5 separate regions of the Homo sapiens genome follow, and all the other regions are linked to region 3. The links come from fine-mapping of genetic effects on gene expression. A gene starts in region 3. Each other region holds a variant in brackets. All regions are shown on one strand. Distances are from middle to middle.

What was found. PIP is the estimated chance that this variant, and not a neighbour inherited with it, causes the effect.
Region 1: its variant is fine-mapped to the expression of SLC39A13-AS1 in whole blood (INTERVAL, PIP 0.95).
Region 2: its variant is fine-mapped to the expression of SLC39A13-AS1 in whole blood (INTERVAL, PIP above 0.99). The same link has a PIP of 0.9 or more in blood mononuclear cells.
Region 4: its variant is fine-mapped to the expression of SLC39A13-AS1 in whole blood (TOPMed, PIP above 0.99).
Region 5: its variant is fine-mapped to the expression of SLC39A13-AS1 in whole blood (INTERVAL, PIP above 0.99).

Annotation. Positions count from the first base shown.
Region 1 is chr11:48,024,795-48,028,909 of GRCh38, reverse strand. The region is part of intron 1 of PTPRJ (protein tyrosine phosphatase receptor type J); the gene reads right to left. Among named protein-coding and RNA genes, the nearest start is that of PTPRJ, 46 kb to the right of the region's middle. RefSeq lists an enhancer at 1-330. The variant AG/G (reference allele first, on the strand shown) is at 1,913.
Region 2 is chr11:47,381,348-47,385,462 of GRCh38, reverse strand. SLC39A13-AS1 (SLC39A13 antisense RNA 1) reads left to right here. Exons shown (of 4, transcript NR_182308.1): 4 at 1,631-3,848. Among named protein-coding and RNA genes, the nearest start is that of SPI1, 4.9 kb to the right of the region's middle. The variant ATCTG/G (reference allele first, on the strand shown) is at 1,882.
Region 3 is chr11:47,406,863-47,410,977 of GRCh38, reverse strand. It overlaps SLC39A13-AS1 (SLC39A13 antisense RNA 1), which reads left to right and starts at 1,696. Exons shown (of 4, transcript NR_182308.1): 1 at 1,696-2,026. It overlaps SLC39A13 (solute carrier family 39 member 13), which reads right to left and starts at 2,388. Exons shown (of 10, transcript NM_001128225.3): 1 at 2,316-2,388; 2 at 583-891. The coding sequence starts at 883. RefSeq lists enhancers at 264-1,128, 1,129-1,995, 2,284-3,106 and a silencer at 2,086-2,875.
Region 4 is chr11:47,356,994-47,361,108 of GRCh38, reverse strand. It overlaps SPI1 (Spi-1 proto-oncogene), which reads left to right. Exons shown (of 5, transcript NM_003120.3): 3 at 1,069-1,256; 4 at 2,103-2,265. Among named protein-coding and RNA genes, the nearest start is that of MYBPC3, 6.3 kb to the right of the region's middle. The variant C/A (reference allele first, on the strand shown) is at 2,320.
Region 5 is chr11:47,433,303-47,437,417 of GRCh38, reverse strand. No RefSeq gene overlaps it. Among named protein-coding and RNA genes, the nearest start is that of PSMC3, 8.9 kb to the right of the region's middle. The variant AT/T (reference allele first, on the strand shown) is at 2,000.

The DNA.
Region 1 (4,115 bases), 620 kb before region 3:
CTCTTTCTCCACTACGGATCTAAACAAAGGCTGCAAACTGGTGGGCTACAGGCTGAATCAGGCTTGCAGACGTGTTTGATTCACCCACACAAGGTTTTTTGTTTGTTTGTTTGCTTTTGAGACGGAGTTTCACTCTTGTTGCCCAGGCTGGAGTGCAGTGGCACAATCTCTGCTTACTGCAACCTCTGCCTCCTGGGTTCAAGCAATTCTCCTGCCTCAGCCTCCTAAGTAGCTGGGATTATGGGTGCCCGCCACCACACCTGGCTAATTTTTGTATTTTTAGTAGAGACGGGGTTTCACCACGTTGGCCAGGCTGGTCTCAAACTCCTGACCTCAGGTGAGCCACCCACCTCAGCCTCCCAAAGTGCTGGGATTACAGGTGTGAGCCACCACGCCCAGCAGCTTAACCTTTTGTTAAGGATTCTGGGCTGGGCTGTGGCCAGTCTACTCTCCTACCACAGAAGAGTAAAATGCCCTGCACCCAGCCCACACAAGGTTTTAAAACAAATCTAAGCCTACTTTAGCAGTGATGAGATTTCCCATGAAATGCCAAGATTTCCAGATTTCATGAAGAACTGCATGATGGGCTACCTTGGGTCCACATTCTCAGGCTGCCCATGAGGAGAGAGGACAGTGTGGATTAGGGGGACAGGTAGTGCTCTGCAAGCCATGTCACTCTTCAGTCCTATATCTCCACTGTCAGAGAAACGTCTTTCAGTGTCCATGCCTCTGTGAAAAGCACAAAACAGAACAACAAACCAAGACGGCCTTATGTTTCAAGAAAGGTGAGACCACTTATGGCTCAGTAGTAGCTAAGATGTTTCCTTTATCTCTAATATGCAAGCCCCATGCAACTGGGAAGAAATACTATTAACACTGGATGCCTTTTTCTTTCACTAGAGGAGCCTCCTTCACTTCCACTCACTGCCTGGACCCTGGAAGCATCTGGACCCTGGAAGCATCTGGACCCTGGATGCAGGCAAACTTGGGACCTAAGAGCTCTCCGAAGCAGTTTTGTGGGGAAAAAGAAACAAACCTGACAATACTGCAGCCTTCCCTGGAGAGCAGACAGGCCCTGCACTGAAGATTTTTTTTTTTTTTTTTTTTTTTTTTTTTTTGGAGACAGAGTCTCACTCTGTTGCCCAGGCCAGAGTGCAGTGGCATGATCTCTGCTCACTGCACCTCCACCTGCCAGGTTCAAACAATTCTCCCGCCTCAGCCTCCTGAGCAGCTGGAACTACAGGCATGTGCCACCATGCCCAGCTAATTTTTTGTATTTTTAGTAGAGACAGGGTTTCATCACACTGGCCGGGCTGGTCTCGAACTCCTGACCTCAGGTGATCCACCTGCCTCAGCCTCCCAAAGTGCTGGGATTACAGGCGTGAGTCACTGCACCCAGACGACACTGAAGTTTTATTGTGTTGGGGAACAGGGAGGGGATTCAGTTCCACCTTATTAGCAACAATACGGAGATTCTAGCCCCATCCATATCAGGACCAAGTTGTTCATCTTGCATGATGGCCCTCCCTTTTATGGGAAGACTCTATATCCTGGGTTCTTACCCATCCTCAGCCCTTTCTGGCTATATTTTAAGGGTATTCCGGGCCGGGCGCGGTGGCTCATGCCTGTAATCCCAGCACTTTGGGAGGCCGAGGCATGCGGATGACAAGGTCAGGAGATCAAGACCATCCTGGCTAACACGGTGAAACCCCATCTCTATTAAAAATACAAAAAAAAATTAGCTGGGCGCGGTGGCAGGTGCTTGCAGTCCCAGCTACCCTGGAGGCTGAGGCAGGAGAATGGCGTGAACCTGGGAGGCAGAGCTTGCAGTGAGCTGAGATCGCGCCACTGCAATCCAGCCTGGGCAACAAAGCGAGACGCCGTCTCAAAAAAAAAAAAAAAAAAAAAAAAA[AG/G]GGTATTCCAAGACCCATCCAAATCAGGCCATTGTCATGGAGCCTTATTTCAAACCTTGAAAAGGGCCCTTTAAAAAGCCTTCCCTCTCATGCAAAGGCATTAAGAATGACACAGTGGACTTCGGGGACTCAGAGGGAAAGGGTGGGAAGCAGGTGAGGGATAAAAGGCCACAAATTGGGTTCAGTGTATACTGCTCAGGTGATGGGTGCACCAAAATCTCACAAATCACCACTAAAGAACCTACTCATGGCCAGGCACGGTGGCTCACACCTGTAATCCCAGCACTTTGGGAGGCTAAGGCAGGCGGATCACAAGGTCAGGAGATGGAGACCATCCTGGCTAACACAGTGAAACCCTATGTCTACTAAAAATACAAAAATTAGCTGGGCATGGTGGCGGGCGCCTGTAATCCCAGCTACTTGGGAGGCAGAGGTTGCGGTGAGCCAAGATCGCACCATTGCACTCCAGCCTGGGCAATAAGAGCGAAACTCCGTCTCAAAAAAAAAAAAAAAGTCCTAACATTCAAGTCAAGCCCCAGTGAGGCTCATGGCCACAGCAGGAAGACAGCAGGATACTGCCTTTCCAAGTCAGAGATAGGGTTTTAGGTATTGCCTTGGGCTGAAAGAGAGCTGGATCCAGCTTTACCTGCTCCTCTCACACCCTCTGTTCCAGCCAACTGCCCCTTTCCCAGGCTTACCAAAGACCTTAAGCACCTTCCTCATGAGAATCAGTTTTCCATACTCTACCATCAAGTGTCTAAGTCACTAAGCCTCTGTTGACTGTTGCCCTGAGCCAAATGCTGTGGACACAGTAAGTAAGACTCGAACCTTCCACAATGACCTCATCATCTACCAAGGAAGACAGACCTTTCTCAACAGCTATGTCATAAGGGCTGTGGTGGAGATGCAGGGTGAGTGCTATAGAAGCTGAAAGATGTGATTTATTCCAAATTTACAGAGTCGGGAGGGTAGCCGACTTCAGGGAGAATGTGCCTTTTGTCCAGAGCCTTTTGAAGGATGAGTGGGGAGTGGGATTTCCATAATTGGGGGGATGAGCATTCCAGGAAGAGGAGCAGCATGAGCAAATCAGAGAGGGAAGAAAGTGCAGCATGTCTTGGGAACACCCGGCTGTCTGAGGCAGATGCAGCCTGGGCAGTCTGGAGGGATTCAGGGGGAGGGAACACTGGACTGCTAAGCTGAGGCCACACATAGGAGCTGACGCGCCATTTAGAGCGCCTAAAGGGCACTTGTAAGGAAGGTATGGAAGACCTTGAATGCCAGACAGGGAAATTTGGACTTAAGCTGTAGGGAGCAGTGGAGAGTCCTTGGAGGTGCAGGAAGGGAAGGAGACAAGGAACAGAAGGCTTTCTGGTGGGCAAAGAACTTGACCTTCGCCTCCTTGATACCAACTTTTGGCACCTGCTCTGCCTGCTCTGCATGTCATGTTCATTTCTGTGGCAATTCCGGTATCTGACCATCTGGATGGTGACTAACACCCACCTATTCTGACCCTATGGCAGGTGTTATGTCCCCTGGTGGCCTCCGGCATACACCAGCCCTGCCTACTGCTCAGAGGCCAGCAGGCATGATTTTATAGTTGAATTGGTTGCCAACTTTTAAAAATTAGGGGACATCACTTAACCTGGGTTTTCTGGGGCTGTACTTTCACATCGCAAGAAGCCGACTGGCAGCTGCTCCCTTTGGGTAGAACATGTAACCTCCAGTTTCCAATGGGGGCACCTCTTTTTAATCTCTAGGACTGAGAATAAACAGCAACTGCCCATTTATCATTTCACCAGGCTGCCCGAAAGGCCTCTGAGTTTGCAAGCCACAGCCACATTTAGCTTAGATGTATGCCCCCCCTAGATTCCAGGTCCCTCCAGGCCCAGGTGCTAACCCCTTTCCCAGATCCCATAGCCTGCCCACAAGATCCAGCACCCCACTTATTCCCATATACTCTCAGGCCTGCCAGATGGCACTGCTGAAAGAAATGAGAAGGCCCCTTAGGGGATTAGGCAGCAAGCCTAGAAGAAATTTAATATACCTTTACTTTCCCTTCTATCACCCGAGAGCTCTGTAAACGCGACTGTTCCTGATTCCCTACTGTGTGGCAGGCCTTCTAAGCACAGCTCAAGAAATGCAGCTGAATGAGACAGGATCCCTGCCTTTGCTAGGCCTGGGGAGCTGGAAAAACTCCAGGTA
Region 2 (4,115 bases), 26 kb after region 3:
TTTTTTTTTGAGATGGAGTCTTGCCCTGTCACCCAGGCTGGAGTGCAGTGGCGCGATCTCGGCTCACTGCAATCTCTTCCTCCCAGGTTCACGTCATTCTCCTGCCTCAGCCTCCCAAGTAGCTGGGACTACAGGCACCCGCCACCACGCCCGGCTAATTTTTTTTTGTATTTTTAGTACAGATGGGGTTTCACCGTGTTAGCCAGGATGGTCTCGATCGCCTGACCTCGTGATCTGCCCACCTCAGCCTCCCAAAGTGCTGGGATTACAGGCGTGAGCCACCGCGCCCGGCCTTTCTGGCAACTTTTTTATTTCTTTACCTGGATGGTGGTTACATAGATGTCAGCTTTATAATTATCTTTTTTTTTTTTTTTTGGAGACGGAGTCTTGCTCTGTCGCCCAGGCTGGAGTGCAGTGGCGCGATCTCGGCTCACTGCAAGCTCTGCCTCCCGGGTTCACACCATTCTCCTACCTTAGCCTCCCGAGTAGTTGGGACTACAGACCGTGCCACCATGCCTGGCTAATTTTTTTTTTTGTATTTTTAGTAGAGACGGGGTTTCACCGTGTTAGCCAGGATGGTCTCAATCTCCTGACTTGGTGATCTGCCTGCCTCGGCCTCCCAAAGTGATGGCATTACAGGCATGAGCCACTGCACCCGGCTGCTTTATAATTATTCTTTAAACTGCACATAAATATTGTATTTACTCTTCTAAATGAACGATGTCTCTCATGACTTAAAAATATCCTGGTAAATCCAAATAGTGGAATACTATACGGCCATTAAAAAGACACTACAGTCAACACTAATTTATAGTGTATTTAAAAATAACTAAAAGAATATAATTGGAATGTTGGTAACACAAGGAAATGAAAAATGCTTGAGGTGGTGGATACCCCATTTACTGATGTGATTATTACACAATTTATGCCTGTATCAAAATATCTCATGTACCCCATAAATAAACACACCTACTATGTACCCACAAAAACTATAAATGGAAAAAACTCAGAAGGACAAGACAGTGCTACATGGGTGTGACATGTATATTGGGGAAAAAAAACAAGGGAACTACAATATGTTTAATGTGCCCCCCTCTGTGTAAAAAATTTTTTTCTTTCCTTTTTTTTTTTTGAGACGGAGTCTCGCTCTAACGCCCAGGCTGGAGTGCAGTGGCACGATCTCGGCTCACTGCAAGCTCCGCCTCCCGGGTTCACACCATTCTCCTGCCTCAGCCTCCCGAGTAGCTGGGACTACAGGCGCCCGCCACCACGCCCGGCTAATTTTTTGTATTTTTTTTTTAGTAGAGATGGGGTTTCACCGTGTTAGCCAGGATGGTCTCAATCTCCTGACCTCGTGATCCACCCCCCTTGGCCTCCCAAAATGCTGGGATTACAGGCGTGAGCCACCACGCCCGGCCCCCTCTGTGTAAAATTTTTAAAAATATATCTGCTACACGCTGTGTAGATGATTTCTAGACCAAAACACAAGATCAGGTAACAAGTGGGCTAGTCTGTGGAAGGGGAACTGGGCAGTTGTTTACCTTTTTTGTACCTTTTGAATTTTGTACCATGTGCACATGTTATCTATTCAAAAAATAAAATAATTAAAAATGATGTTTTTGTTTTTCAGTCCCTAGAGCGTCCAAGATTTTTGGTTTCAAACCAATTTCCTGCTGACCAGAATGAAATGGAGCCACATTCCAGCACGATGCACCTGCTGACCTCCTGCAAGTCAGGGACCTTCTCTGCCCCTCTTTTGCTCTGCTGCAGGAGGGAGAAGCTGGGAATGTGTTCCTCTGGGGTCCCATCACCTCCAGCCAGCCACTGTCCCTGTCTCCCCAAAACCTCCTCGTTGTCCCTCCTCTGTCCTCCTCCTCCTCC[ATCTG/G]CCTTCGCCCTGCTCTCCTCTTTTTCGCCTGAGGTTCGTGCTGCCTCCTCACCTCTTGTCCTGTTTCTCCCTTCTCTCTGCTCCCTCCTTTGATCTTGCTATTTTGCTTCTCTTTCCCTTCCTCTCTTCTCCTCCCTCCCCTTCCTCCCTGCTCCCTGCCTCAGCTTCTCAGTCTCTCTCCGTTCTTCCTCTAGCTTCCTTCCCTCCCCAGAAGACCCAGCCCTTCCTAGAGCCCCAGAAGCCAGGGTTCATGCCCCAGCTCTCTACCCACACATGCTGTGCAACCCTGGGCCAGTCACTGGTCTCTTGGGCCTCAGTTCAACAGATGGCTGTCTTGGTGATGTGAGATCATAGGGTGGAAGCACCCAGAATGGTGCCAGGCACTCAAAAATTTTTTTCTTTTCCTTTTTAAGGAACTACTAACCGTGAGGTTATGGATTACCAAACCGTTCCTGTTCTTGGAATCTGGGTCCTACTATTCCCAAGAATTTGAATTACCACGGGTCCCTGGGGATGTAAGGGGATGAGGCTTCTGATGTACTTTGGGAGGGGGAGGAGTGGAAAGAGGAGTTGGGAGGACACTCTAGCATTGCCCAGAGGGCAGAGGACATTCTGCCTATTTCCAGAGGTTATTGACCCTGGATCTCTTTTATGGAGTTCCTCACCCAGGCCCCTTGAGCTTGGCCATACTTGAGGCAATGGGATATCTTCCTTCTCCTGGAGCCCCTTGAATCTTAGGCCTCGGGAACACACAGTCTACTGTGTTTCTTGGCTGCACCCACGGAGGACAGCCCCCATACTCCTTGCTTACAACCAGCAAAGACTCCACAGCCATCCCTGCACACGACTCAGGCTCCTTGGCTTGGCACTCAAGGCTCTTTGCTTTCCTGTCCTGCTTTGCTTCCAGCTGCAAAGATGGTGGCTTCCTGTTTTCCTCTTCGTTTCCTTTGCTTAAGTTGATTCTCAGCCAGACATGCTTTCCCCCTGCACGCTTCCCTAAGCCATCCTATCTGGGACCCTGACCCAATCAATGGTTCCCTAATGCACCTTTGAGACCAAGTGTACCTGGCACCTCCTCTCTTGCCCCACTATCTGCTCACATGACCCTCTGCAGGCCTGTAAGCTGCTGGAGGCTCCGAGTATGCCTCATTCATGTCTATCCCCCTTACTAGGCCCAGACCATGGAAGACACTCAATAAAAAGTAAGTGATTAAATGACAACCTCTACGGAAAAGAGTATGGAGATTTCTCAAAGAACTAAAAACAGAACTACCTTTTGGCCAGATGCAGTGGCTCACACCTATAATCCCAACATTTGGGAAGGCTGAGGCAGGTGGATTGCTTGAGCCCAGGAGTTCAAGATCAGCCTGGGCAACATGGTGAAACCCTATCTCTACAAAAAATACAGAAAATTAGATGAGACTACAGGTGGCACACATCCATAGTACCAGCTACTCCAGAGGCTGAGGCGGGAGGATCGCTTGAGCCCAGGAGGTCCAGGCTACAGTGGGCCAAGATCACGCCATTGCACTCCAGCCTCAGTGATAAAGTGGCATTCTGTCTCAAAAGAAAAAGAACTGGCCAAGCATGGTGGCTCACGTCTGTAATCCCAGCACTTTGGGAGGCCGAGGCAGGTGGATCACATGAGATCAGGAGTTTGAGACTAGCCTGGCCAACAATGATGAAACCCCATCTCTACTAAAAATACAATAATTAGCTGGGCGTGGTGGCGGGCGCCTGTAATCCCAGCTACTCAGGAGGCTGAGGCAGGAGAATCATTTGAACCCGGGAGGCAAAGTGAGCCAAGATTGTGCCACTGCACTCCAGCCTGGGCAACAAGAGCGAAACTCAGTCTCAAAAGAAAAAGAAAAAGAGAGAAAAGAAGAAAGGAAAAGAAATATCATTTGATCCAGCAATCTCACTGAGTATCTAACCAAAGGAAAATAAATCACTATACCAAAAAGATACTGCATTTTTATGTTTATCACAGCACTATTCATAATAGCAAAGACACAGAATCAACCTAAGTGTCCATCAACGGATGAGTGAATAAATAAAATGTTATATTTTTATATATATATATATATATAATGAAATACTATTCAGCCATAAAAAAGAATGAAATTATGTCTTTGCAGCAACATGGATGGAATTGGAGGCCATTATCATAAGCGAAACAATGCAGAAACAGAAAGTCAAATACTGCCTGTTCTCATGTATAAGTAGGAGC
Region 3 (4,115 bases):
TCTGAGGGTTGAGCACAGGCCTGACCATGGCCCAAGCAGGGCTCTATTCACAGCTGTGGCACCGCCCTCAGCCCAGTGCCTGGCACAGAGCTGCTGGGTAACCATCTGGTAAGTGAATGGTTCCTGAGCATCCAGCTGGCAGCACCAGCCCCTGGGATGCTCGTTTCTAACAGATTCCCAGGGCCTTGGTCCACCCCTCTTAGGTGGGGGATAGGCACGTGCATTCTTAGCAGCTCCCTAGAGCTCTCCTGCGTGTTTTGTTACAACATGTTATTTGTGAACGGGCAGTACATGCTCATGGTACAAAAGGGTAGTCAGGACAAAGCTCCCACCCGTGCCCACATCCCCATCTCCTAGACCCCCTCCCCAGGGGCAGGCCCTGCTACCAGGTGCTCATAGCTTCCTGGGGAAGCCAGAGCCAGCCGCCCCTGGCTAGATAGCTCCTACAGGACCAAGGGGAGAAGTTCTATTCTATCCTCTCCCTCCATCTCAGACACTCTGTGACCTGGGGTCTCCTAAGAAGAGCAGCAGCATGCTTCCCACACCCTGGCCAGCCCTGGGCGCCACCGGAGAGTCACCTACCTTCTGAGCGCAGCATGGTCCCCATCTCTAGGGGAATGACAAGCAACGGGAAGACCCCACTGAGCCCCACCATGAGGGAACCCAGGAGGGAGCAGATCCAGGTGTCCAGCCGCTCTCCGCTCAGCAGAGCCCCCCAGGACTCGCTTTCCTTGTTGTCCAGGCGACAGGCCGTCGCAGTCCCCCGGCTCCGGAGGGCCGGCTGGGAACCCCCAGCCCTTTCCAAGAGCTCCAGGGCAAGGGCAGTGAGGAAGAGGAGCCTTGGGCCCGCCATGCCACAGCCAGGGCAGGGACATCCAGGCATGCCACGTACTGAAAAACACAAAAGGCCACCTATATGAGCTACAGCCTTGGCCGCACACCTGCTTAGGAAACGTGGCGCCTCCCTCCTCCCCGCAAGGGACCCTGGCATCCACCCTCCTGCTGTCCTTGCCAGAGCGTCTGAGCATCCAAATGCTGGGTGCACAGCAATGGGGCCCTGTGTCTCCACACCCTACTCCTGAGCACTGCGTATTTTTTCCTTCTGAGCAGCTCCAGACTGTGTCAGCACCTCCGCCTGAGGCTAAACTTTCCCTAATGACAGGGTGAGGCGCTGGCTGGCTCTCCTCAGCCACCGGCGGCACGGCCCGGCCCAGCTGGGTGTCTCTGGCTGCCAGGGGAGGCCCTGCCGCCCGCGACACCCCAGAGACTGAGGCACCCCTTCTAAGGGGATGGGGTGGATTCAGAGAGACATACGTGGGGAAACTGAGCAGATGAGCCAGGGCAAGACCATCCACGCTTCTTCCTAGGACATGAGACCAATGTCCCCAGGGCACTGAGGGCAACAGGAGATGGGGCTGATGAGGAAGGAGCCTTTAGCCAGGGGATGCCTCTCTCTTGTATAGCGCAGGCTTTAGAGCCCCCACGGTGAATTCTATGCTGCACTTTGAGCTGTCTAACTCTGGGCAAATCTCTGAAGCCCCCCCTCTGAGCCTCAGTGCCCTCATCTGCAGGACAGGGATCAATATCACCTGCCTCAGCTGTGAGGACGAGATAAGCCTGAAAGTGCAGGTGGATGTACCCGGCATGAGGAGGCGCAGAGGCCCTGCCTGTGCCAGGGAAGGCCTGGGGCTCCCTGCAGCAGGAATGTGCCCAGCCGGCCGATCACAGGATGTGGACGTGAGTCAACCAAGCGAGAAGTTCCATCTGGAAACTCGGGCATGAGGTTTAAATGTGGTCTGCTCTGCCTCAGGCTGGCTGTGACCTTGAGCTGGTGATGTCCCTGCCTCAGTTTCCTCACCTTCTGATGGAGATGGGAGGGGAAGAAAGCAGCTGCCTCTGGGTGGTGGCAGAGATGCCCATGTCTAGGACCTCCAGGCCTTAACTAATCAGGGGCACTGATGAAGCCAGCGGGGCTCCACTGGGGACCACAGGCAAGACTGGGCCAGGACGAGGCGGTCACGCAGAGGTGAGGGGACCACAGGCTAGCGGGAGGGAATACACGGAGAGTCCAAGGGGAGAGGAAAGTAGAGAGTGAGAGAGCTAGAGAGAGGCGGGTGGGACGCGGAGAGGACAGCGAGGGAGGGATGGGGCGTGGGGCGCGGAGCGATGGGGGAGAGGAGGCCGAAGCGGGCGAGCCTGACTCCCGGGTCCTGGGAGCCGGCCCAGGTCTGATGAGGACCAGTCGGACGGGGCGAGGGATCGGCCGGGTCCATCACGCCCGGGGCGCGGGCCCCGAGGGTCCTGCTGGCACTCACCGTGCGGCGGCGGCGGCGGCGATCCGGGCGGCCCCAGCCATCCAGCTGCGGTGCCGCGCCCCGCCCAGGCTCTGCCCCGCCCGGCCGCCCGGCCGCCCGGCCCCCGGCCCGGGGCCGCCCCCGGCGCGCGGCCACGTCACAAGGGGCCTGTCCGGAACCCGAGGCGCCGCGTGCCGCGGGGTCGGGGGGAGTGGCGGCGGGAGGGCGCTTCCGCCTCGCGGCGGTGGGGGACCCGGGTAGAGGGCGCACTTCCGTTTGGGCAGGGCTGCGGGCCGGAGGGGAGGGTCGGTCGGAAGTGAGAGAGCCACACGCACCGCGCTCAGCCAGGCTGGGCAGGGACGGAAGCGGCGGCTCTGCGGGGACCGCGATCGACCAGGCTGCGGGGCTTGCGGATCTGGCCGCCGCTTCCCGTCCAGGGCCGCAGTCTGCCCGTGGCCGCACGGGGGCGCGCCCGGCCGCCAGACCACGCCGCCCAGGTCGGGCTGGGAGGACTACTGTGCGCTCCTGCTCTGAGTCAGCCCGGCCTGGCTCCTCCATGAGCAAGGGAAAGGGGAAGTGCCTGCCGCAGGGAGGGGCCTGGCCCCGGGAACCTCAGAAGAGGGAATTTTATTCTTACTCATCGAATTATTTTTATGCTTTGGTTTTTCACTGGGAACCTCAGGCCACTGTCTCCAGGGCTTGTAACCCTTTGGGGTCCAATGCATGGTGGCTGGACCCTGCTGATGGGAACTCCAAACCTGGGAGGCGAGGGCTCTGTGCTTCCCTCACCTGGAGGAAGCTAGACCTGACCTCTTTGGTTAGACTAAGGCAGCAAACACTGGATAGCAGTTCTTATAACCGCAATTTACTGACCACCTACTATGTGCTATTCACTTTACTCGCACTATCTCACTGAATCCTCATATTATCCCATTGTGGTGGGTACTGTTAGCCCAGGGTCACACAGTGGCACAGATGGCAGAGCCAGGATTCAAACCTGGGTGTCCTGAAGCCAGAGTATGTGATACCACTTCTCACGTCTAGGTCCTGAACAGCAGTGGGAGTCTGGCTTGGCGTTTCGAGTTTGTATTCTTCTCTGGAAATCAGCCAGTACAGGAGAAGATTCAGGAAGGGGCATGTGGGTACTCACTTGGGCAGAGATAGCGACTGAGTACAGGTCTCTTAAGTCTCTGACCCTCATCAGCCTCCCATGGCAGCTCCAACCATTTACTCTGTCACTTTCCCCTCTGCTGGGGCTCTTGAGAGCACACTCAGCTCTCAGGGCTGCCTCTGGTGCCTGTCCCACTTCATGTTGCACTGTTGGCCTTCCTTAGACCGCCAACTTCTCCCTGGTGGCCCAGCTTGTCTTCTGAAGCTTTCTGTCCATCTCACCCCACCGGGCCCATACAACTGCCAGGACGTTCTGTTCCCTCCCTGAGTTCCAAAATGGAATCCCTGGGTTAGTTTCTTGGCAAAGAAAAGCTACTCAGGGATCCTGCCCTAGGACTTCTAAAATGCCCCCCTCCCTGTATGCAAAAGCGCTCCATCTTATGCAAAGCACTTCACAATATGCAAATGATTTCACAATAACACAGTCAGCATTCCTGCCTCTGGAGGCTGAGCGCTCCTGGCCACCCAACAAGGGGATGGGCAAGACCCAGCCAGAAACGTTACTTGGTGCCAATGCACTACCCTTTCCTCCCACCTGGCCTGGAATTCCCATCGGATACCTAAGGCCCGGTGGCTCACATCTGTAATCCCAGCACTTTGGGAGGCCTAGGAAGGAAGATCTTTTGAGCCCAGGAGTTCCAGACCAGCCTG
Region 4 (4,115 bases), 50 kb after region 3:
CGCTCCGTCGCCCAGGCTGGAGTGCAGTGGCGCAATCTCGGCTCACTGCAGCCTCCGCCTCCTGGGTTCACACCATTCTCCTGCCTCAGCCTCCTGAGTAGCTGGGACTACAGGCACCCGCCACCACGCCCAGCTAATTTTTTTGTATTTTACTAGAGACGGGGTTTCACTGTGTTAGCCAGGATGGTCTTGATCTCCTGACCTCGTTATCCACCCACCTCGGCCTCCCAAAGTGCTGGGATTACAGGCGTGAGCCACTGCGCCCGGCCGAGTTTTTTTTTTTTTGAGGCAGAGTCTCACTCTGTCGCCAGGCTGGAGTGCAGTGGCGCAATCTCGGCTCACTGCTACCTCCACCTCTCGGGTTCAAGCGATTCTCCTGCCTCAGCCTCCTGAGTAGCTGGGATTACGGCACCTACCACCACGCCCAGCTAATATTTTGTATTTTAGTAGAGATGGGATTTCACCACGTTGGCCAGGATGGTCTCAATCTCCTGACCTCATGATCCGCCCGCCTCCGCCTCCCAAAATGCTGGGTTTACAGGCGTGAGCCACCGCGCGCGGCCCTGGCTGGGAGGTTTTAACAGGATAGGAGGGGAATCAACTTTCCCTGAGGGCCGGCTCTGGTGCGAGGTGTTTTACAAATGTGTACTCATTCGTATCTTCCCAATAACTGTGATCCCCATTTTACAGGCAACTCAACTGAGGTTAGAGAGGCCACATATGTGCCTGAGGTCACACAGCAAGTAAATGGCAGAGCCAGGATTAGACGCTCGGTCTGTGTGACTGCACAGGAATCAGGATGGAATTGCTGAGAACACGAGCTTTGCTTCAGCCCTGAGTCCTGGCTGTGACCCGGATGCTTTTGACCTTGGGCATGCTATGTAGCCGCTCGAAGCCTCAGTGTCCTCATCTATAAAATGCAGGCCTAGAGTAACCATGCAGGTGGCGAGGGTTAAACGAGATGGTTAGGCCCCATATGGCCTGGCAGTATTATTTAATGTTACTATAACCTTTTCCTGCCCTGCCCAACCCTGAGCTCACCCCATACTGCCTGGCTGTCCCCCACAGACCATTACTGGGACTTCCACCCCCACCACGTGCACAGCGAGTTCGAGAGCTTCGCCGAGAACAACTTCACGGAGCTCCAGAGCGTGCAGCCCCCGCAGCTGCAGCAGCTCTACCGCCACATGGAGCTGGAGCAGATGCACGTCCTCGATACCCCCATGGTGCCACCCCATCCCAGTCTTGGCCACCAGGTGCATGCCACCGCCTGCCCCGTCCCCCAGGAGACTGCCAGGCCTGTGGTGGGGCCCGGGAGCTTCACAGGAAGCTGACACAGGCTCTTACCCAACTCAGCTTCCTGCCCCACAGTGCCAACGGCGGCTGGAGCTCCAACGGCTGCCGCCTGACCCCCCAAGTGACCTCATGACCCCACACCCCTTATCTCATCTCACCCCGAGTATGGACAGACCCCAGATAATTCTCGCACCCTCACCAAGCCTCCCCATCCCAACGCCTTGTTGTGGGCCCTCCTGGGCCTCACTGTCTGCCACCCCCATTCACTAGCCCTCATGGATCCCACACCAAGTCACTGAACACCTCTACTGACCCTGCCTCTCCCCAGTGACCCTCCCTACTGACCCTAACCCGGATCAGTGACCTCTGCTGACCTCTACCACCCCTACTGACCTCCAGGGTCCCTCCACTCACTCATCATCCCACCTATGAAACCCCCTTCCAGACCCAACGCACCGGTCCCTAGCATGCCCTCTTCTGACCCCAGCCTAATGCGGGTCCACACAGCACCGCTGCAGGGAGGAGAACAAGGCACCACTTCCCCGGTGCCCACAGTCCTAAACCAGGAGGCCCAGCTGGGAGGGCTGGGTGGGCTGGATGTCAGCACCCCTCGCCCCACAGCCTGCACCCTATGTGCAGCACCTCAACTGGCCCCCCTTTTCCCTGGTCTTCTTCCTCCAGTCTCCTGTGCCTGCCATTGTCCCCTGCCCTCTGCACTCCTTCTCTCCCCAGCTGACCTCCCTCCCAGCCCCCCTGAGCTGTAAGCTGGCCCTTCCTGACTCTGATCTCCTTCCCCCACCGTCCAGGTCTCCTACCTGCCCCGGATGTGCCTCCAGTACCCATCCCTGTCCCCAGCCCAGCCCAGCTCAGATGAGGAGGAGGGCGAGCGGCAGAGCCCCCCACTGGAGGTGTCTGACGGCGAGGCGGATGGCCTGGAGCCCGGGCCTGGGCTCCTGCCTGGGGAGACAGGTGGGGCACCTGGCCCTCCACCCTGGCCCCGACCCTGGCCGTGTCTGTGCCCTG[C/A]CCCCACCCAGCCAGGCCAACTGACCCAGCAGCCACGCCACCGAGTCGCGTGTGTGTGTGTGTGCATGTTTGCCAGTGTGTGTGTTTTGTGGGGCTGTCTGTGGCTGTCTCTGTGTGTGTGTATCTGCTGTGTAGTGCATACGGGCATCTCCATGAAGTGTGCCAGGTGTGTGTGTCTCTCTGTGCCATGAGTGTGTGTACATCTGGGTGTGTGTGAGCAAGTGTGCAGAGGGTGCGTGTGCACAGGTACGGGCAGGTGCATGTGTGCGAGTGGCTGTGTGAGTGGGTGTGTGAGAAGGTGAATGTGAGAGCTGGTGTGGCTGAGAGTGGGTGTGGCCATGTTTGTGTGTCTGTCAACACATGAATGTATTTCAGTGCGTGTGAGCAGCTGTGCACGTATGATGTCAGTGGGTGTCAGCAGTGTGTGGGTGTGCCTGTGTGAGCAGGGATGTGAGCATGGTATATGTGAGTGGCTGTAAGCAGGCATGTGTGAGTGATATGTGTGAGTGGGGGTGTGACAGCAGGTGTGTGAGCAAGTGTATATGTGTGAATGTGTATGTAAGCAGGGATGTGTGTGATATAAGTGTGTGTGAATGGGCATAGGTGTGTGTCAGTGGATGTGTGAGTGGGTGTGAACATGTTTGAGGGTGTATGTAAGCAGGTGTGTGTGAGCAGGAAGGTGTGAGCTGGGGTGTGTGAGCATGTATGTGTATATGTGAGCAGGTCTGTGCATGTATGTGAGTGGATATGTGTTTTAACATGTGTAAGCATGTGTGTGTTCCCATGTGTGAGCAGGTGTGTGTGGGGGGTGAGGACGTGCTTAAGCACCTGCGTGTGTGAGCAGGTGTGCATGTGTGTGAACAGGTATGTGTATGTGTGAAAGCAGGTGTGTGAATGAGTGTGTGAGCATGAATGGGTGTGAGTGGGCCGGGCGTGGTGGCTCACGCCTGTATCCCAGCACTTTGGGAGGCTGAGGCAGGCGGATCACCTGAGGTCAGGTGTTCGAGACCAGCCTGGCCAACATGGCGAAACCCCGTCTCCACTAAAAATACAAAAATTAGTCAGGCGTGGTGGTGAACGCCTGTAATCCCAGCTACTTGGAAGGCTGAGACAGGAGAATTGCTTGAACCCGGGAGGTGGAGGTTGCAGTGAGCCGAGATCGTGCCATTGCACTCCAGCCTGGGCAACAAGAGCAACTCCATCTCAAAAACAAGAGAATGGGTGTGATGTGTGAGTGTGAGAGCAGGTGTGTGTGAGCATGCATGAGTGTGAGCTGCTGTGAGTGGATGTGAGAGCAGAATGTGTGTGAGCATTTGAGTGTGCAAGTAGGTGTCTGAGTGGTTGTGTGTGAACAGGCGTGTAAGCATGCAAGTGGATATGCATGAGCAGAATGTATGTGCATGCGTGAGCAGGTGTGAGGTGCAAGTGTAAGTGGTGTGAAATATGAGTGAGCAGGTGTCAATGAGGTGTGAAAGAGCTGGTGTGAGCGTGTGAGTGATAAGTGAGCAGCTGTGAGGTGTGAGCATGTATGTGAGCAGGTATGTGTGATGTGTGAGCATATGTGTGAGCATGTGTGTGTGCAGATATGTGTGGGCAGGTGTGTGTGAGTGGGTGTGAGATGTGAGCATGTGTGTGAGGTATGAGGTGTGAGCATGTGTGAGGTGTGAGCATGTGAGTGGGTGTGAATGTGTGAGGTGTTAGCATGTGTGAAGTGTTAGCATGTGTGTGAGCATGAGTTTGTAAGCATAAGTGTGTGTGAGACTTGGTGTGAGGTGTGTGAGGAAGTGTGTGTATGG
Region 5 (4,115 bases), 26 kb before region 3:
AATTGATATGTCACAGTTCTGGAGGCTGGGAAGTCCAAGATCAAGGCACCTGCAGATTGGGTGTCTGGTGAGGGCGCACATTCTTGCTCACAGATTGAGTTTTCTTGCTGTGTTCTTGCATGGTGGAAGGGACAAGGAAGTTCTCTGCATTCCTTTTTTTTTTTTCTTTTTGAGACAGGGTCTCACTCTGTCGCCCAGGCTGGAGTGCAGTGGTGAGATCTCAGCTCACTGCAACCTCCGCCTCCCGGGTTCAAGCAGTTCTCCTGCCTCAGCCTCCTGAGTAGCTGGGATTACAGACACGCATCAACATGCCTGGCTAATTTTTCTATTTTTAGTAGAGACAGGGTTTCTCCAAGTTGGCCAGGCTGGTCTCTAACTCCTGACCTCAAAAGATCCACCTGTCTTGGCCTCCCAAAGTGCTGGGATTACAGGCGAGAACAACCATGCCAGGCACAGTCCCTTAATAAGGGCACTAATCCCATATATAAGGGCTCCACCCTCATGACCTAATTGCCTCCCAAAGGCCTCACCTGCCTAATGACAGTCCTAGCAGGCTCATATAATGTGATAAGTTCTTTGTAACAATAAAGAGTAGAGCCTGGTTGTGTGCAGTGGTTCCTGCTTGTAATTCCAGCACTTTGGGAGGCCGAGGTGGGTGGGTCACTTGAACCCAGGAGTTCAAGACCAGCCTGTACAACATGGCAAAACCCTGTCTCTAGAAAAAAAAAAATACAAAAATTAGTCAGCATGGTGGCACACACCTGTAGTCCCAGCTACTCGGGAGGATGAAGCAGGAGAATCTCTTGAACCTGGGAGGCAGAGGTTGCAGTGAGCCAAGATCATACTACTGCACTTCAGCCTGGGGGACAGAGCAATACTCTGTCTCAAAAAAAAAAAAATAAGAGTAGAGGCCTGGCGCAGTGGCTCACACCTGTAATCCCAGCACTCTGGGAGGCAGAGGGGAGGTTGGATCACCTGAGGTCAGGAGTTCGAGACCAGCCTGACCAACATGGTGAAACCCCGTCTCTACTAAAAATACAAACATTAGCTGGGCGCGGTGGTGGGCGCCTGTAATCCCAGCTCCTCCGGAGGCTGAAGCAGGAGAATCGCTTGATCCTGGGAGGTGGCAGTTGTGGTGGGCTGAGATTGTGCCATTGCACTCCAGCCTGGGCAACAGAGCGAGACTCCATCTCAAAAAAGAAAAAAGAGTAGAGCCTGGTCCCTCTTCCTCATGTTCACCCCCTTCCCTAAACCAGTTCTAAAACCATTAAGTGGGACAGAGCAAGACAAGCATCTGTGTGGAGGGGTGACCTGGTGTGAGGCACTGGAATCTAAGCAGGCTGAAGAGTGTCCACACAGGGCAAGGCCTGGGGTGAGAGGTCAGAACCTGTGTGGAGAGAGGACAGAATCCACACATGGGGTTGGGTTGTTTTGAAGTGTCAGAGACCAAGCCCAAGGAGGGGCAGCCTGGCGTGGGCCATTGGGACCTCACCAGAGTAAGGAGGCATCCAAATTGGTGAAGGTTTGTGTGAGGCATCAGAGCTTGAGTAGAGCGAATAGGCCATGCACATGATTTGGGGCATCCTGGCAGGGGGCATTAGGTCAAGGATGGAGTGAAGAGGGTTCTGTGTGTGGAAGGGAGTGGCAGTGGAACACTGGGTACACAGAGGGGGTTGATCAAACAAGTAAGTAGGTCAGGTGCGGTGGCTCACAGTCTATAATCCCAGCACTCTGGGAAGCCGAGGCAAGTGGATCACTTGAGGTCAGGAGTTCGAAAGCAGCCTGGCCAACATGGTGAAACCCCATCTCTACTAAAAATACAAAAAAAAATTAGCCTGGCGTGGTGGCAGGCGCCTGTAGTCCCAGCTACTCAGGAGGCTGAGGCAGGAGAATGGCGTGAACCAAGGAAGCAGAGCTTGCAGTGAGCCGAAATCCTGCCACTGCACTCCAGCCTGGGTGACAGAGCAAGACTCTGTCTCAAAAAAAAAAAAAAAAAAAA[AT/T]TAGCTGGGCGTGGTGGTGCACACTTGTAATCCCAGCTACTTGGAGGCTGAGGCAGGAGAATCCCTTGAGCCCAGGAGGTGGAGGTTGCAGTGAGCTGAGAGCACACCACTGCACTCCAGCCTGGGCAACAAGAGTGAGACTCCATCTCAAAAAAAAAAAAAAAAAAAGTAGGTAGATTAAGGACAGTGGAAGGCAGCTTTCTCACTTTTTTTTTTTTTTAGATGGAGTCTTGCTTTGTCACCCAAGCTGGAGTGCAATGCCTCCATCTTGGCTCACTGCAACCTCTGCCTCCTGGGTTGAAGCAATTCTCCTGCCTCAGCCTCCTGAGTAACTGGGACTACAGGCATGTGCCACCATGCCGGCTAATTTTTTGCATTTTTAGTAGAGACAGGTTTTCACTGTGTTAGCCAGGATGGTCTCGATCTCCTGACCCCATGATCCGCCTGCCTCAGCCTCCCAAAGTGCTGAGATTACAGGTGTGAGCCACCGTGCCTGGCCGCTTTCTCACTATTGATGGAGAGAATTACAAATATGGAAAGGGAGAGAACCAGAGTGGACCCTGTGGCGCTGAATTAGAATTGTAAGAATCAGTGTGAACTCATGGATTTCAAAATATACGGGTAGATCTAGAAATAAATATAGTTATAAATGTGCGTGTCCACCAGCCTGGGCGCAGTGATATGCCAACAGCAATGAGCTCACCCAGCAGCCAGGGCTTGGCTTTGAAACACCATGTTTCACAAAAAGGAACCAAGGCTCTTTGGTCAAGGGCCTGATTCCAGGGCTGGGTCATAGAGAGTACAAGATGAGCCAGAGCTATTTTGTGCCAGAAAGCAAGGGAAGTTGAAAGAATAATGAGGAAAACTCAAAGGCCACAGGAGCCAGCTTGGATGGGCTCCCAGCAGCCACTGATAATGAGTAACAGTGAATGTCGCAGCTCAGGCTGCCATAACAAGGCACCTTAGGATGAGAAGCTTAAACAACTAAAACTTACAGTTCTAGAGACAGGACATCCAAGATCGAGGTGCCAGAAAATTCAAGAAGCCTCTCCTCCTGACTTGCCCTTCTCTCTGTGTTCTTACAAGACTTTCCCCCCATGCTGCTGTGGTGACAGCAAGATTGAGCCCTCTCTCTCTCTCTTTTTATGTATTTATTTATTTTTGAGACAGAGTCTCGCTCTGTTGCCCAGGCTAGAGTGCAGTGGCATGGTCTTGGCTCACTGCCTCAGCCTCCCAAGTAGCCAGGATTACAGGTATGTGCCACTATGCCTGCCTAATTTTTGTATTTTTAGTAGAGATAGGGTTTCACCATGTTGGTCAGGCTGGTCATGAAGTCCTGGACTCAAGCAATCCACCTGCCTCAGCCTCCCAAAATGCTGGGATTACAGGCACGTGTCACCACACCCGGCTAATTTTTGTATTTTTAGTAGAGACAGAATTTGGCCATGTTGGCCAGGCTGGTCTCGAACACCTGACCTCAGGTGATCTGCCCCCCACCCCCTAGTCTCTTTCCCTCCCTCCCTCTGTCTTCCTCTTCCTATAAAGGCACTAATTGTCTGGGTGTGGTGGCTCACGCCTGTAACTCCAGTAGTTTGGGAGGCGGAGGCAGGCAAATCACTTGAGGTCAGGAGTTCGAGACCAGCCTGGGCAACACGGCAAAACCCTGTCTCTACTAAAAATACAAAAATTAGCCACATGTGGTGGTGCACATCTGTAATCCCAACTACTTGGGAGGCTGAGGTGGGAGTATCACTTAAGCCCAGGAGGCAGAGGCTGCAAAGAGCTGAGATGGCACCACTGCACTCCAGCCTGGGCCAGAGTGAGACCCTGTGAAAAAAAAAAAACGAAACAGGCTGGGCCTCATTGAGAAGGTGGCATGTGAGTGAAACCTTAAAGGAGGTGAGAGATTGAACTAAGCAGATTTCCTGGAAAGAGCATTCTCCTAGAGAACAGAATCCTAAGACAGGAGCTTGCCTGATGTGCTCAGGAGCAGCAGGGAGGCCTGTAAGTGAGCAGGAGGGAAGGAGGAGGAGTGGAGGCCAGGAGGAGAGTGTGGTGTGAACACATGCAGGACTTGGGAAGGACTTTGGCTCCTGCTCTGGCGAGTCGGGCACC